Linked DNA regions of Homo sapiens: region 2 is linked to region 1. Evidence: fine-mapped expression QTL. Tissue or cell type: subcutaneous fat. Region 1 holds a variant in brackets; the other region holds the start of a gene. All regions are shown on one strand. Distances are between the middles of the regions.

Region 1 (8,106 bases):
TAGGGCCCAGCTATGGGGGTCCCCACGGTTGTCATCAGTGAAAAGGGCAAAGCAACTTGAGCTCTGGGTGAGGTTTGAAGCCAGTTCCTGTCCCTTGGGGAAGAGGTTTCCTGGAGGCAGACCTGCCAGGTCCAGCTTCAGGTGAAGGTCATGGCCTGCTGCCATCTGCAGCGGCCTGGGCACCAGTTGCAACGGTTAGGGGCAGAAGCTGGGAGCAAGGGCTGAGGCAGGAGCCCCACATCATGGTGGGAACCCAGACACCTGTGGTCTGCTTGCGGGGGTGGGCCCTGGTCTAATTAGCAAAGGAGGCTCAAAAAGCAATACACAATTCATTGCCCCAGCTGAGCCACAGAATCTCTCAGAGTTCCTCAGCTGCTCCAGTGACTTAATTCTGTGCCTGTTAATTCTGTTCCTATTCCACCCACATCCCTTATGGCCTCTCTGAGGATGAAATGAGATCAGAAATGTAACATGCTCAGCCAGGGCCGGATGCATAATAGGTAGGCTCGGTAAACGTGAGAGCAAATCCCAGCTTCACCACTCACTAGCTGTGGCGCCTTGGGCGAGCTCCTCCTTGGTGCCTTAATTTCCTCATCTGTAGAATGCAGATAATAACAAAATGTACGTCATAGAACTGTTGGGGATTAAATGAGTAAATATTTGTAAAGCACTTTGAACAGTGCCTGGCACTTAGTAAGCGTGATAGCTGTTTGCTATAATATTAAATTTACTCTTTTTGTGTGTGACAGGGTCTCACCCCGTGCAATGGTGTGATCATAGCTCACTACAGCCTCTACCTCCCAGGCTCAAGCGATCCTTCTACCTCAGCCTCCCAGATAGCTGGGACTAGAGGTGCACCCCACCACACCCGGCTAATTTTTTATTTTTTATTTTTTGTAGAGACTGGGAGTCTCATTATGTTGCCTAGGCTGGCCTCGAACTCCTGGGTTCAAACAGTCCTCCCACCGTGGTTTCCCGAAGGTCTGAGATTATAAGAGTGAGTCACTGTACCCAGCCTTAAATAGTATTCCTAATGGTTATTCATGTATTTATTCATGAATTTATTCAACACGTCTTTCTTGAGGGCCCACTATGAACCAGGCACTGTTCCAGTCACTGGGGCTATAGCAGGGAACAAGAGACACTAGCCCTGTGGTAGGTATAATGATCCTCCCTGCCCCCAAAGACGTCCATGCCCTAATCCCTGCAATCCTGACTATGTGATGTTACGTGGCAAGAGAGACTTAAGGTTGCAGGTGGAATTAAGGTGCTCATCAGCTGACTGGGAGAGAGGGAGGGTGCCTTGGATTATCCAGGTGGGCCTAACGTAATCACAAGGGTTCTTAGAAGAGGGAGGCAGGAGAGTCAGAGAAGGAGGTGCGAGGATGGACACGGGGTTCTAAGTGATGTGATTCCTGGCTTCTTCCAAGATGGAGGAAGAGGCCACGACCCAAGGAAAGCAAGCGGCCTGTAGAAGCTGGAGAAAGCAAGGAACTGGAGTCCCCTCTGTAGGCTCCAGAAAGGAACACAGCACTGCCCTTGATTTGAGCACAGTCAGGTTTCTGACCTGCAGAACTGTAAGATAATACATTTCTGTGTTTTAAGCCACTAAGTTTGGTTTGCGGGGACTCGTTATAGCAGCAATGGGAAACAAATACCAACCCTTCCTCATGGAGCTCATATTTTTATAGGGGGAGCACAACAATAAAATCAACAAAATGCAGTGTGTGCAGCAGGCAGCAGCAGTCGAGCTGGCCCTTGCAAGTTGGCCATCCCGCTAGCCGTGGCCGCCCCCACTCCTAGTGTCCCTCTGTTTACCCATGGCTGAAGGGCGGGGGCTGCTCTGCCCATTGGCTTCCAGGCTCTGGCTGGACACACACTGCTAGATCTCGCTGGCTCCTGGGCTGGGGAGGGGCAGGTGCGTGGTGTCTAGCCCAGGAGTGGGTGGGACCTGCTGCCAAACTCTGGGGCAATTAGCATGTTCCTAGATTCCTGTGGGCGAGGAGATGAGAAATCGTGATTTGTCAAGGCCGGTTGGGAGTGAAAGCCAAAGCCAGGAGGCCGCCTCTGAGTCTCCCGGGTTTCTGTAATTATAATTACTTGATTGGGCATAATAAGGTGCATCCGAATCTTCCCATTAGGAGGCCATAAAACAGCACTTGGGCTTTCATCTTGCCCAGCTGCTTACTGAAACCTCCCTCTTTTATCTTCAATGCCTTTAATTGACAGGTCTGAGCCCAGGGAGCTACTTCTGGAGATGCTGTGGTCTGGGGTGGATCCTGCCTTCTCAGCCCCTGCCTGTTGAAGTCACTGAAGTCTCTGCTGCATCTCCGGGCTTCTGCTGAGCAGGGCTGGAAGGTCTTGCTTGAGGAGCTGAAGCCCACCAGCAGGTGGGGTTTGCCACTCAGGTGTAGCTCATAGACCTTGAAAGGATGGTGCCTTGTGGCCCATGTTCAGGAAGTCAGGTTGAGCACTGCTCAAGGGCACCTACATCTAAGGGTTATCATCAACATGGTAGACATGCTAATTTACATGAGCACACTGGACGGGAGATTGACTAGGCCTCCAGGCAGGTAGCTGGGGAGAGCACCCTTTGGCCTAAATTCACAGTGGCACTTGGGGGTGTGCACAAACTCTGCACACCTGTGCGCCTCTGTCCCATCTGCACTCCAACTGCTTGATACCCTTTAAGGCCTGATTCCAAGACCTCCAAGACTGAATCTGTCATGATTGCCTCACCTGGAGGGGCTGTGGGGGGTGGGGAGGGTGGCACTCAGTGTGTGTGTGCATGCTGCTGCCATGAGTGGGCCGTGGTGTGTGTGGACACAGCCAGGGCTGCTTATACTAACTTGACCTTTCTTATTTAACCTGAGGAAGGGACAACCTTTCCTAATTTGCACAAAAGTGCTGCATGGGCCAGCCAGCCTTTGCAGCTGCCATCTGCATGGTGAAGCCCCACCCTGGGTTTCCCTAGATAAACTTTCCATTCTCTAGTGGCCTGAACCTTGTTCCCAGGGTCAGCCTGCATGTGACCCTTAGTCTCTCCTGGCTGGGACTGGACACAGACCTGTGCCACCCCTGGGTGTCCCCTCTGGGTGTGCCCTGTGAACTAGCTACCTTCCCCTCAACCAGGAACACAGGCAAGTGGAGAACTCAGCTGGGAAAACACTCTGACCCAGGCCTAGGGAGGCAGTGGGAGAATAAGCAGTTTGGCAATAGAAATACACATCCTTCAACATAGTGATTTCCCTCTAGGGAATCTGTGCTTAAGAGATCAAGGATGTGTGC[C/A]CAGATTTTGCCGAAAGGATGTTGGTTGCAGCATTGTGTTAGCAACCGTTGAAAATAAACCAAGTGTCCATCAAGGGAAGGAGTGACTGAGTCCCAAGCAGCCCTTTATGTTCCTAGAAATCTGCCCAGAAGTCAGAGGTTTGAAACTTATGTAATTTATTTTAAAAAACTGACAGTAACATTTAAAGTTATGAGAGATATTTATATCCCACCCCCCAAATTAAAAACATTATTAAATCACTAATTATTTTCCTCCCAGCTTTATTGAGGTATAATTGACAAATAAAAATTATATCTATTTAAGGTATATGGCTTAATGTTTTGATGTTACAGAAAGATTTTGAAACATGGTAAAATGATCACCACAATCAAGCTAATGAACATATCCATGACCTCACGTAGTTACCATTTTTTTGTGTGTGTTGAGATCATTTAAGATCTACCCTCTTAGCAAATTTCAAGTATACAATACAGTATTAATAACTGTAGTCACCATGCTGTATGTTAGTTCTCCAGAGTTTATTCATCCTGTATAATTGAAACTTTGTACTATTTCACCAACATCTCCCCATATCCCCCCTTTCCCCCTGCCACCCAGCCCCTGACAGCCACTATTCTATTCTCTGCTTCTGAGTTTGACTTTTTCAGCTACCACATATAAATGGGATCAGGCAATACAGTTGTCCCTCAGTATCCTCGGAGGATTGATTCTGGAACCCGCATACCATCCCCATCTTTGCAGATACCAAATTCTGCAGACTCTCAAGTCCCTTATATAAAATGGCATAGTATTTGCCTATAACCTGTGCACGTCCTCCCGTGTACTTTACGTCATCTTTATTTTGTTTTGTTTTGTATTTTTTTTTTTAAGACAGGGTCTCACTCTGTTGCCCAGGCTGGAGTGCAGTGGCACCATCTTGGCTCACTGCAAACTCTGCCTCCTGGGCTCAAGTGACTCTCTTGCCTCAGACTCCCAAGTAGCTGGGATTACAGGCACCCACCATCACACCCCGCTAATTTTTGTATTTTTAGTAGAGACAGAGTTTCGCCATGTTGGCCAGGCTGGTCTCAAACTCCTGGCCTCATGTGATCCGCCCGCTTCGGCCTCCCAAAGTACTGAGGTTACAGGCATGAGCCACTGTGCCTGGCCAACTTTATATCATCTTTAGATTACTCATCATACCTAACACAACGTATATAGCTGTTAGGCTGTATTGTTTAGGGAACAATGACAAGAAAAGTCACAATCTTCATAGGCCTGACTGCATTTTCAATCCACCATTGGTTGAATCCAAGGATGTACTCATGAGTACAGAGGGCCAGTTCAACTGTCTTTCTGTGCCTAACTTTTTTCACTTAGTGTAATGTCCTCCAGGTTCATCCATGTTGTTGCAAATGACAGGATCAAATCACTGGATTGTGCCTAACTTTTTAGATGTAATCTTTAATATGTGTCTTAGTTTGTGTTTTCCCAAAAGTAACATCTAAAACAAAAATCTGATTGCAGGTAGTTTATTTTTGGGGTGATTCCAAGAAATGCTGATAGGGTAGAGGAGAGAGGAAAAAAAATAAGAAAAGGAAATAAAGAAAGCTATAATAAGCCGGGTGCAGTAGCTCATGCCTGTAATTCCAGCGCTTTGGGAGGCTGAGGCAGGAGGACTGCTTGAGCCCAGGAGTCTGGGGCTGCTGTGAGCCATGATCACGCCACTGCACTCCATCTGGGCAACAGAGTGAAACCCTGCCCCCCACCCCCCAAAAAAGAAAGGGAGCCAGTAAAAGATGACTTACTAAGCAAATTACCTATTGACAATGTGGTCCTGCAGAGCACACACAGTAGGCCCCAGGGGCCAGGGGGAGTCCTGAGGCGAGTCCAGAGGCAGGCAGCTGAGGCCAGGCTTGAGTGCATAGAAATGGTGAATGTGGTGGAGGTGACAAGGTGGAGCACTGATAGCTAGAGACAAGTGTGTCTCTAGATTTTGTATGTTTTTCTTTAATCTTTTTTTTTTTCCTTAACAATTGGACCTACAGGTGGCAGACAAATCCAGAGGGTATTCATTGGAGGATGAAGATTTCCTGCCTCTGGTATGCATGATTTCCTCTTTGTCACAATTTGATTTTCAAAGGCAGCAGCATTTCTACATTTCTATTTTCCGCTGGTTTTTATAAAATAGTAAGAAGCCGGGCATGGTGGTGTGCACCTGTAGTCCCAGATATTTGGGAGGCTGAGGTGAGCAGATTGCTTGAGCCCAGGAGTTCAAGACCAGTTGGGTAACACAGCAAGACCCAGTCTCTCAAACAATAACTAGATAGTTAATAAGAAATATTATCTCCAAGTAAGTGCTCTAAGAAAAAACAATGGCTAAGACTTATGAACACATACCATAAGCCAGGTTTGCTTCATTCTAATGGCAATGCTCTGGGGTAAATATTACTGTTATTGCCATTTTACAGTTAAAGAAATGGAGGCCCAGGGAGGTTAAGTAATTAGCTCAAGGACACACAGCCATTAGATGACAGAGCCTGGCAGTCTAGCCCCAGAGTCCATGCTCTTAATCAGCCTGCCCTGCAATGGCCATGTGACTGTTTGATATGGTCCCTCAGCTGACTTTGGAAGCCTGAACATGGCATGTGAAAGAGCATTTAGGGGTGTCAGTAATAATGCACAAAAATGTAGATTTTTTTGGTCCAATTTGAATATAACTACAGTGTGGTATAAAATGGTTTGTGGCAGGTAGAAACATTATGAACTCATTTGGGCTAGAAACATACCTTTCATATTTTCTATGACCTGAGATGAGTTTTTATTCTGAGACACACCTCACTGAATGAAGGAAATTAATCTCAATCCATGTGAGGGCTGCCTTGGCTTTTTCCCAGGGCCAAGGAGGGTGTTTAGTACCAACCATGCTGGGGTGGTGAGAGTGAGGTGGTGGAAGGGTGTCCACACTGAAAGGGCGATATGGTTTAGGTCTGTATCCCCACCCAAATTTCATATCAAATTGTAATCGCCAGTGTTGAAGGTAGGGCCTGGTGGGAGGTGACTGGATCATGGAGGTGGTTTCCAATGATTTAACACCATCCACCTGTGGCTGTCTTGTGATAGAGGTCTCTTGAGATTTGCTTATTTAAAAGTGCATAGCACCTCCCCTTTTCTCTTTCTCCTGCCGGCCATGTGAATATGTGCCTGCTTCCCCTTCCCCTTCTGCCATGATGGTAAGTGTGCTGAGGCCTCCCCAGAAGCAGAAGCCTGTACAGCCCATGGAACCGTGAGCTGATTAAGCCTCTTTTCTTAATAAGTTACACAGTTTCAGGAATGTCTTTACAGCAGTGTGAGAACGGACCAATACAGAGGACCTCCTTGCCGTTCATTACTGGGTCATGGTCCACACCTCCATCCTCACCCTGGCCTTGAGTCCTCTTTGGGCACACTGGCTCTGCAACAGAATTTCCATGCCCTGTTGGAATGCAGGGACATCACCCTAAGGCCACTGGCCGCGCTGAAAGGCCCAGCTGCCCTCTGCTTTCTGAAGTCACTCCCTACATCTCTGCGCCGCTGTGTGTCCCACCCCACAGGAAGAGATTCAACCTGGGAGAGGGAGGCAAGGGGAGGAGGCACCAAGTCTTTTATTTCTATTTTTGCTTCCAAGGGTGAAAAAAATGGCTCTGTCTAGAGACTGTATACCTCCACAGTTGGTGTATCAGCTATTCCAGATTCCTTTCCGTCCCCGCTATCCTAGTTGTCTATTGTTGCATGACAAACGCTGAAACTTAGTGGTATAAAACATACATATTATTTTGGTCCAGGCTTGCCAGATAAAATACTGCAAATCTTTTACCTGTAAATACTGTAAATATTTTATCTTCAAGCTTAAAAAATTAACTTCTATCTCTACTACACAGATAAAAATTTAAACTGAGTTAAACTTGAATTTCAGATAACGTATAATTTTTTAGTGTAAATATGTCCCATGCAATCCCATGTAATATTTGAGAGCTACCTAGACTAAAAAATTATTCCTTGTTGATCTAAAATTCAAATGTAACTGAACATCCTGTAGTTCTATTTGCTAACTCTAGCAACCCTATTTTGGTCGCAGCAGTGTGGGTCAAGAGTTTGGGAAGGGTTTGGAGAGAGCCGAGGGATCCACTTGGAAGGAGGCTTTTCATGCACGTGTCTGGGGTGCCAGGGGTGCTCCTTGGCCTCCTGCCCTTTCTTCACATGAGGTCTGATCTCTGGTGCTTCTCCACGCAGCTCAGGATTCTCACGGTGTGGCTGCTGCAGGGAAGTCAGATCACCTACGTGGAGGCCCAGGGGCCTGGCTCTGGAAACAGGAGGCAGAAGCTGCCAGTCTCTAGTCTTGGGCCTGGCAACTGGCATAGCATTACTTCCGCCCTATTCCATCGCTCAAGCAGTCACAGAACCCACCTGGCTTCAGCAGGAAGGGGCAAGGACCCCGCCTCCTAATGGGAGCAGTGGTGAAGAATTTACAGTCATCTTTAATCTGTCATACCCGCTGAGAAGAAATAGATTTTCTGCCACCTGAAAAGTTGAAAGTCACATGTGTTTTTCTCTTACATCATGGCTTTCCTGAGGTGATGGCAGCAGCTCAGTCCAGCTGCCGTCTGATTGGGCGAAGGGTCCTAGAAGAAGGAAATACAGGAGGGGAGGAATCTTGGCTATTTCAAAATGTCATTCCTTGCATTTATGCAACCAAGGAATCCACGAAGTCAAATCATACGTAACAATTCAAAAGATCTTCAGAAAGATCTTTTTAAAATTTTTTCTTTTTTAAAAAATATATTTTTTCTTTTGAGACA
Region 2 (8,106 bases), 56 kb after region 1:
CCGGCCTCTTTTTCTTTTCTTTATCTTCCTTTCTTCCTTATTCTTTCTACCCTCCCTCCTTCCCTCCTTCTCTCCCTCCCTCCCTCCCTTCCTTCTTCTTTTTTCTCTCTCTCTCTTTCTTTTTTCTATTTTTGAGACAGAGTCTTGCTCTGTCGCCCAGGTTGGAGTGCAGTGGTGTGATCTCGGTTCACTGTAACCTCCACCTCCTGGGTTCAAGAATTCTCTGGCCTCAGCCTCCCAAGTAACTGGGATTACAGGCGTGTGCCACCACACCCAGCTAATTTTTGTATTTTTGGTAGAGACGGAGTTTCACCATGTTGGCCATGCTGGTCTTGAACTCCTGACCTCAAGTGATCCACCCACCTCAGCTTTCCAAAGTGCTGGGATTACAGGCATGAGCCACCATGCCTGGCCTCTTCTTTTCTTTCATCTGCTAGGTAAGGGATTCGATAAATATTCCTCTAAAGTTTGCCCTAACTTTAGATCTTTCATTTGAAGAGCTGAGCTGTATAACTCCTAGACATAGTCACAGCCCAGCAGGACATCCCATGGTGACTGCTTAGTCCAGAGGAAGGTGAGTTGTGACATCCTTAACCCATTCCTCTTCTCTCTCCAGGAAGATGGTCAGCAAGGGTGGCTTGTGTGAGGTGGTGAGTGGCTCTGGCCACTGGCTCAAGAAGTCCCCAGGTTTATCTCCCTCCATGCAGTTAACCCTTCTCAGTTCCCAGGTTGCCCTGCGTCCAAGGAAAAGCTCACCTCTCAGCCCTCAGATGCACCCACCTAGCAAGAGTCTTTCTTATCTGAGCCCCCTGAGTTAAAAAGATTGGGAGTAGGGTAGGGGAGAGGAGGCAGAGGTTCTGGGAATGCATTGGTAAGTTCTAATTTTTAAGTTGCTTGAACTTCTGTGCTGAGCAATGCTATCTTTGTTAAACTTGGTTGGCCCACAGTGCTCCTGAAATAGCATTAAGCTTGTTTTAATCTGAAGGGAGAATGTTGTGCTATTGGTAAGGTGATAAAACTGTAAAAAAAAAAAAAAGAGTAATAAAGAATACAGCTCCCAAAGCACTGTGGTCTTCTTCTTCTTCTTCCTCTTCTTCCTTTTTTTTTTTTTTTTGAGATGGAGTCTCGCTGTACGAGCAATTCTCCTGCCTCAGCCCCCTGAGTAGCTGGGATTATAGGCATGTGCCATGATGCCCAGATGATTTTTTGTGTTTTTTAGTAGAAACGGGGTTTCACCATATTGGCCAGGCTGGTCTTGAACTCCTGACCTCAGGTGATCTGCCCACCTCAGCCTCCCAAGTGCTGGGATTACAGGCCTGAGCCACCATGTCTGGACAGCATTGTGTACTTCTGATTATTCATCTGTTGCATTATAAGTTACATGAGTGCAGGAACCACATTTGGTTCGGAGTAGGGTTTGTTAAATGAATGAATGACTCTGTCTCCATCTCTATCCACCACATGGGTGTCTCAGGTCCAGGCCAATAGCAAGAGGCTTTATGTCCAGTGTAGTTAAGGTGGGGACAGATGTAACACTGCTTCCTGAAGCTCCTCACTGCCTTGGGTTTCCTGTATCACTCTTCTAAATAAGGTAGGGCCAGGCCAGTGGAGTCTCCTCTCCCTTACAGTGCCCTGGCCTGAGCTTGACAGACTGTTTGGATGGACTGGGAGTGGGTCAGGCCTAGAGCAGCTCTTTCAGGGTTAGACTTGACCTGTCAAGTACCCTAGAGGCATGGGCAGTGCTGTAGAGGCCCCAGCACATAGTGTTTAGGCATGTAGATTCTGGAACCAGATCTGGCTCAAATCCGGACTCTGATACTTACTAACCATGTGATGTTGACCAGTTGCTTTACCTCACTGGTCTCAGTTTCCACATCTGTGAAATGGGATGATGATACAATACATACCTGTCAAGCCAGGCTTAGATGAGATCACGTGTGAAGGGCACTCCCCAGGCTGGCATCACAGGCAGATTTCCATCAGAGTGGAGTGCTGGCCCTCTGAGAGTACAAGCTGACTGGGCCTTGCAAACTGGGTAGGAACAGCTTTTGCTGGAAAGTTCATCTACAGGAAGTTGATTGAATTCTGAAGAGAGAGCTAAGAGAGCTGCCAGGTAGGACAATACCTGGTAAACACCAAAGGGCTGAGAGTAGGATCACATGGCAAGAAGTAGAGTAGAGAAAAAATAATAATAATCTGCAGGTTTGGGGAGGCAAACTGTTCTGTTTGCACTTGTCTGGCAAGGGAACATGGTGTCTCCTGGAGGTGGTCTTGTGCTGGGGAAATTCCAGCAGCCTGGAGCCACAATACTGTTTCTCACTGCTCAAGCCTGCCTGTTTTCCTCTGCCTAGGTAGCTCAGTTCCAAGAACACTTATTGATGCTTACACCGGGCCAAGCCCTGTGATGGGCCCTGGGTTCCAGAGGTGAGTCAGACATGGTTCCTGCCCATGGAGATCCCCATTTCATGATAACTGCTACAAGAGCCGTTTAAACACAAGGTGTTTTACAGTAGTTATAGTCTACAGAGTGCTTCTGATTGCTCACTAGGCCCCACTCCATTCACACTGTGTTGTCTGTGAATGTTGCTCTCTGGAGCTGTGGGGGGTAAGGGTAACCCGGGAAGGTGGGCAGAGCAGAGATTAAGATAGGGATATGACAGCCAAAGGTAGAGGGTGTTTAGGTGATCTGACCAAGGTAACACAGGTAGTCTGCACCACCGCCCCCTTCCCACTAGCTTTAGCCAAGCAAGGCCAGGTGAGGGGAAGATCCTATTAGCTAGCAAGGAGGTTTGCGGAAGCTCAGGGTGGTCAAGGAGCCGAGCAAAGAGGGAGGTCCACAGGACGTACACAGTCGGTACTAGAAGTGCCATGCTGCTCCCCCATGTCCAAAAGGGGATGCCGTGTCTTGCTTTCCAGCCGCCTAGACCAAGAAGCGTGAGGCCCAGGCCCTCGCCGCTCCCTTGATACCCGCTTACCAACACCGGGGGTTTCATCTCGCAGCGCCACCACGCCCCACTCCCAGCAGCCCTCCCCTGGTCTCCGCCCTGTGCGGGTCAGGGTGGGAGCGCCCGGCCACTCCCTGCGTTCTGGGCCGGGCTACAGCCCACGTGCGCCGGCGGCAGCGGCGGTGACAGCCGGCCCCACGGGGGCGGGGCGGGCTCCGTGCTGTCCTGTCATTGGCCGCGCCGCTGTCGGGGGCGTTCCCCAGCCCGGTCCACCGCGCGGCGCAGAACCGCAGGCGCTCGGCTGGCTAAGCCTGCGCCGGGCCGCCTCGCTCGCTCCCAGCTCTGTCAGTGGCCCGCGGGGCCCGATCGCTGCGCCCGCGGCCAGGGCCGAGGCAGGCCTGACCCGGGGCCGGGCAGCCCGCGCGACTTTCGGTAAGGCGGGGGCGGCGCTGGCCTCAGGGTGGGGAGGGCGGGCGGGCGCGGGTGGGGACCGTGCCAGCCTCGGCTGGACTCTGCGCCGTGTCCAACGCCCGGGAGGGTCAGGTGCGGCCGCAGCATCCCCCGCCTCAAACCCACCCGGCGGGGCGCACAGTGAGCAGGTGGCGCTGCGACGAAGCCCGGGGCGGCCCTGGCCGGCCTCTGAACCAATTAGAACGCAATAAAAGCCTCCCACCGGCACGCCGAACTACCTCTTACTCCGCTCCGCAACACCCAAACCCTGCAGTTCCAAGCCTAGAAAATCGCAAGCGCCAAAACGGGGTGGGAGTGACGCGCCTGCAGTGCTGCCTGTCACCTGGCAGAAGACCATCCCCAAACTTCCCAGGATTGGGGCTCCGAGCCTTGCACGCCCCGTTCCAGCTCTTCACTGGGCGCCCTTTTCCCCCTCCCCTGTCCCCTCCCTCTTTAGTAACAGGAAGTTAAGTTGGGCCAAATGTCAGTGGCCTGGCTGGCCGCGGGCTGGAGCCCAGTCGGGATGGGGTCGTGGCAGTGGTCCGAGGGGCCGCGGCACTGTCCGCTCTGCATCGCGTCTCCCGCATCCCCAGTAGCCCGCTCTCGCTCCAGGCCCAGGAGCACCCCCGCAGGGTGTCCGCGGCACCCACCCTGTAGGTGCCTGGCTGGCCCCGGGGAGAGGTGGGATCTTGCCCACAGCGTCTAAGCCGCTGCCGGGCCAGACGGGGCAGGTGGGGTAAATTGTATTCACCGCCAGCCTCACTGGCAGAGCTGGGAACGGCCTTTACTGGATGGGGATGAGGGGATGTGGAAACCAGAGTAGTGTGCCTCCTTCCACATTGTTTATTCTGAGGCCTGGGTTCTTAAAGCGGAAAGAGCTTTTATTTGGAAGCCTGTAGGGCCCCGCCAGGCCTACAGCAGTGTGCCGGCTCTCTTGCTGTGATTGTCGCCTGTTAACTACAGTCTACAATGATTTTGGTGAAGGATGAAGTCACCAGCCAGGCCCCTTGTGGGCTGGTCCCACGGGAGAAAAGCCAGAGGCGAATTGGCCCTCCAGTGTTTGTGCCAGGTTCCCTGACACCTGCACTTACTCTGTCCTGCTCCCCCTCCCCAGTGGCAGTCGACCCAACAAGTGGGCCTCCGGTCTCCAGGGTAGTCCTGTGCAATGCCCTGGAGACTCTAATACCGTAAGAACTCACTTTCTTCATGCAGAGAGAAGACGGACTTATTAAGTGCCTACTGGGCAACAGGTCCTGTCTTGTGGCACTTTTGCAGCCAATTTCATGGTTATTCCAAAAACGCTGAGAGTTTTGCCCTCCCCATTTTAGAGATGGGGAAAGAGGCTCAGGTATGGTAGGTGCCCAAGGTCACACAACAAGTGTCTGAGCCAGGTCCTGGCCCTGTCAGTGTGAGTCCAGTGCTCTTGTTTCATGGCTGTGGGAAGTGGTGTGCTGTGTGCAGGACCATGGCCCCACAGCGTGCTGACTAGAGCCTTCCAGCCTCTGAAAAGATGCTCTCCACCAGGATTTCAGGGGATGCTTCTTTGGCAAAACAGTTGAAGTGACCCAGGTTAGCCAAGTTGTTCAACCTGCAAACCCCTTATCCTCCCCCTAGTCAAGAGTAGTGGATAGTGTTGGCCAGATTGCTATGGGGAGGGATTGGGTGCTATTTTGGAAGGAAGCCTGCTTCTACCATTGACCTGGCCTCACCTCTGAGAAGCTGGCTTCTGGTATAGTCTAGGAGGACTGTGTTAGCTGAAATAACCTCTACCTTAGGACTGATTCTAGTTTCGTGGGGCTTTTGGGGGTGGGGGGGCAGGTGTTGGGGTGTAGTGTTATGGTTGTGGGGTAATTGAAATCCAGTTTGAACATACCTCTATAAAAACATGACATCACTTTTATCTCCAGCCCCTTCTTCCTTTAGGCCTAGGGCTCTGGCTTTCTGCTCATCCCCTCTTTCAAAAGAAAATCATGATAAGTCATGATTTTCATGACTTATTTTCATGATGTCATGAAAATCATGAAAACTGATACCAATCCATTATACTTTAGTATAAATCAGCTTTTAAGAACTATGCCTGGTTGTGGCTGTGGCCATTGGAGGCCCATTCCCAGGCTGCAAGGAGCAGCCATATGATCCCAGATTCCTTCTCTGCCTATAATTGGGGTATGTTTCTGTTCTCTCCACCCACACCTGGGTTTGCCTCCCAGCCATGGGCCTGCCCCCTTTGCTTCCCACTGCTGAAGTATAGAGGTCTTGTCTTCTTGGTGGAAGCCTTGGCTCTGGCAGGACGGGACGTGGTAAGGGTAAAAGAATAACTTGGTTAAACATTGCTGATCCTAGATGTCCTCTGAGGGCTAACAGTCTCTATTCTTTAAAGAGTCAGAGAAGAGAATACTGTTCATCATGCTGAGATGTTTCATTCTTTACATCATTCTATTGTTTCATTCTGCCTCTAAAGAAGTGGGGTTAACTGCATTTTACAGGTGAGGAAGCTGAGACCCAGAAAGGTTACAACTTGGCCGGGTGTGGTGGCTCATGCCTGTAAAACCAGCACTTTGGAGGCTGAGGTAGGAGGATCATGTGAGGCCAGGAGTTCAAGGCCACCTTGGGCAACGTAGCAAGACTGCTGTCTTTAGTAACAACAACAACAAAAAAGGTTACAACTTGCCTGCATCACACAGCATGTATGAGTGCAGTTTGAGTGTGGAGAATTAAATGCTATGGGAAGCAGGAAAAGCCTGTGGCTGTCTCTGCACTCTGGAGGCTTGGCAGGCACAGCTCCTCTGCTGCGCAGTCATCTCCCTTATCCGCGGTTTCACCTTTCGAGGTTTCGGTTACAGTCAGCCATGGTCTGAAAATATTATAGTATTTTGAGAGAGACGGAGACCACATTTACATCGCTTTTATTATAGTATATTGTTATAATTGTTCTATTTTATCATTAATGTTGTAATCTCTTAAGGTACCTCATTTGTAAAGAAAACTTAATCGCTCCTGTATGTATAGAAAAAAACACAGCATATATAGGGTTTGGTACTATCCAAGGTTTCAGGCATTTACTGGGGGTCTTGGGATGTATCTCCCTGAGATGAGGGGGGGCTACAGTACTTACCCTTTCTCACCCTATATTGTAATTATTTATGAACATGTCTTCTCACCTCACTATGAAATGGCATTTAAAACACTCAGAAACTTGGCAGATTTATTTTCTGGTTTTGCAAATCCTCTGTGCTCTTTGCTCTGTATTTCCTTAGCTTTTATGCGAGCTATGTCCATGAGGGTATCTACCAGGATGTATTGCAGTCCTCTCTCAAAAATATTACAAACATTTTCACATACACAAACTCATAATGCATAATCAGCCCCATATACTCATTACCCAGCTTCCACAGTTATTGAGATTATGCCTGGTTGGCTTCCTCTCTCTCTTTTTCTCCCTTCCCCTCTGAAAGGAATATTTATTCCTGAGATATTTTAAAGCAAATGTCTAATGTCATGTCATTTGGCCTCTATATAATCCAGTATACAACTCTTTTAAAAAGGACGTTGTCTTGCATAACCACACTTCACTACTGCACGTAACAGAATTAACTGTGCTTCTTAGACATCACCTGTCCACCTGCAGATATCCTTGATTGTGTCAGAAATGACCTTTAGAGTTGGTTTGTTTGAACGAGGATCCAGTTGGTATGCCGCATTAGGCCGTTGGTCCTTTTATGCCTGGTTTTAGTTTAGAGAAGCGCCCCCTCTTTAGCCATTACCCTCTGTGTTAACTGCCCATCTCCCCTACTACATAGGGAGCCCCTTAAGACGAGCCCACCTCTTGGCTGTGCTGGATCCTCAGCACTGAACGCCGTGTCTGGGACACGCAGAGGCTCCATAAGCATTTGTCCAGTTGTATCATAGCCACTCAGGAAATGTGCTTTGAATTGATGAACCCAGTCACGGATTTGTGTGACTACCAGTGCATGTGCTTAGATAAGAGGTTTTAAAAAAATGACTTGCTTACGTGTGGACGTTTCCTCAGCACGCGTCGGTCTGTAAACATCCTAAAATAATAGAAGAACTATCTGCTGCTCCCCCTCACTGTGCTGGTTTGTGGTGGGGAGCCGAGACAGCTGCGTTTGTGCCTTGATCAGCAACCGGCCTCCACAGGTCACACGTGGGGCTGACGGAGACTGAGGTCACTTCTGTCCAAGCTTTGAATTCTGCCACAGGAATGACCATGTTATGACCCAGAAACCTGGCCCTGGGCTTGGTGGAGACCACTCATCTTTTCTTCTTCCTTCTGTCTCTGGACAGTGCTGCTTCTCCTGTGCCTTCCAGAGCCTTCTCTAACCTGCCTTACTCTTGGGCAAGTTGTGGTGCCTTCTTCAAATCACTATTCATCCACAACTGGGGCAGGTCGTGATGGAAAATAAGTGTTTATAACCTTCAAGTGTCTTGTCTGAATTTGTTCTATAGAGTTAGCACCACCACTGGCACATTTGTGGGTGACCTAATGAAGGAGACCGGAGGCTTAGGAGGGCAGGAGAAGATGTACCTTCTTCTCTTGGTAATGGACTTCACACCTGGTTCTCTCACCAGATGTCCTTAGGGGTGCTGGACACCTCGATAGGTGTCTTTTACCCATCCAGTAATGGCCCTTCCCTGCGAACAGCCCTCAACATGAAGACATGGTTTGTTTGGGGCTTTTTTTCTTTTTTTC

Alleles and levels. Alleles are on the strand shown, and positions count from the first base shown. SD is a standard deviation of normalised expression in the study named.
For the expression in subcutaneous fat of the gene that starts at base 3,241 in region 2, C is the low allele of the variant in region 1 and A is the other (small effect, 0.18 SD a copy in GTEx).

Evidence for each region. PIP is the estimated chance that this variant, and not a neighbour inherited with it, causes the effect.
Region 2: it holds the start of MICAL2, and the variant in region 1 is fine-mapped to the expression of MICAL2 in subcutaneous fat (GTEx, PIP above 0.99).

Annotation. Positions count from the first base shown.
Region 1 is chr11:12,050,994-12,059,099 of GRCh38, forward strand. It overlaps LINC02547 (long intergenic non-protein coding RNA 2547), which reads left to right. Exons shown (of 2, transcript NR_135109.1): 2 at 7,541-8,106. Among named protein-coding and RNA genes, the nearest start is that of LINC02547, 24 kb to the left of the region's middle. The variant C/A (reference allele first, on the strand shown) is at 3,289.
Region 2 is chr11:12,107,350-12,115,455 of GRCh38, forward strand. MICAL2 (microtubule associated monooxygenase, calponin and LIM domain containing 2) reads left to right here and starts at 3,241. Exons shown (of 28, transcript NM_001282663.2): 1 at 3,241-3,377. RefSeq lists a silencer at 2,935-3,604 and an enhancer at 3,147-3,850.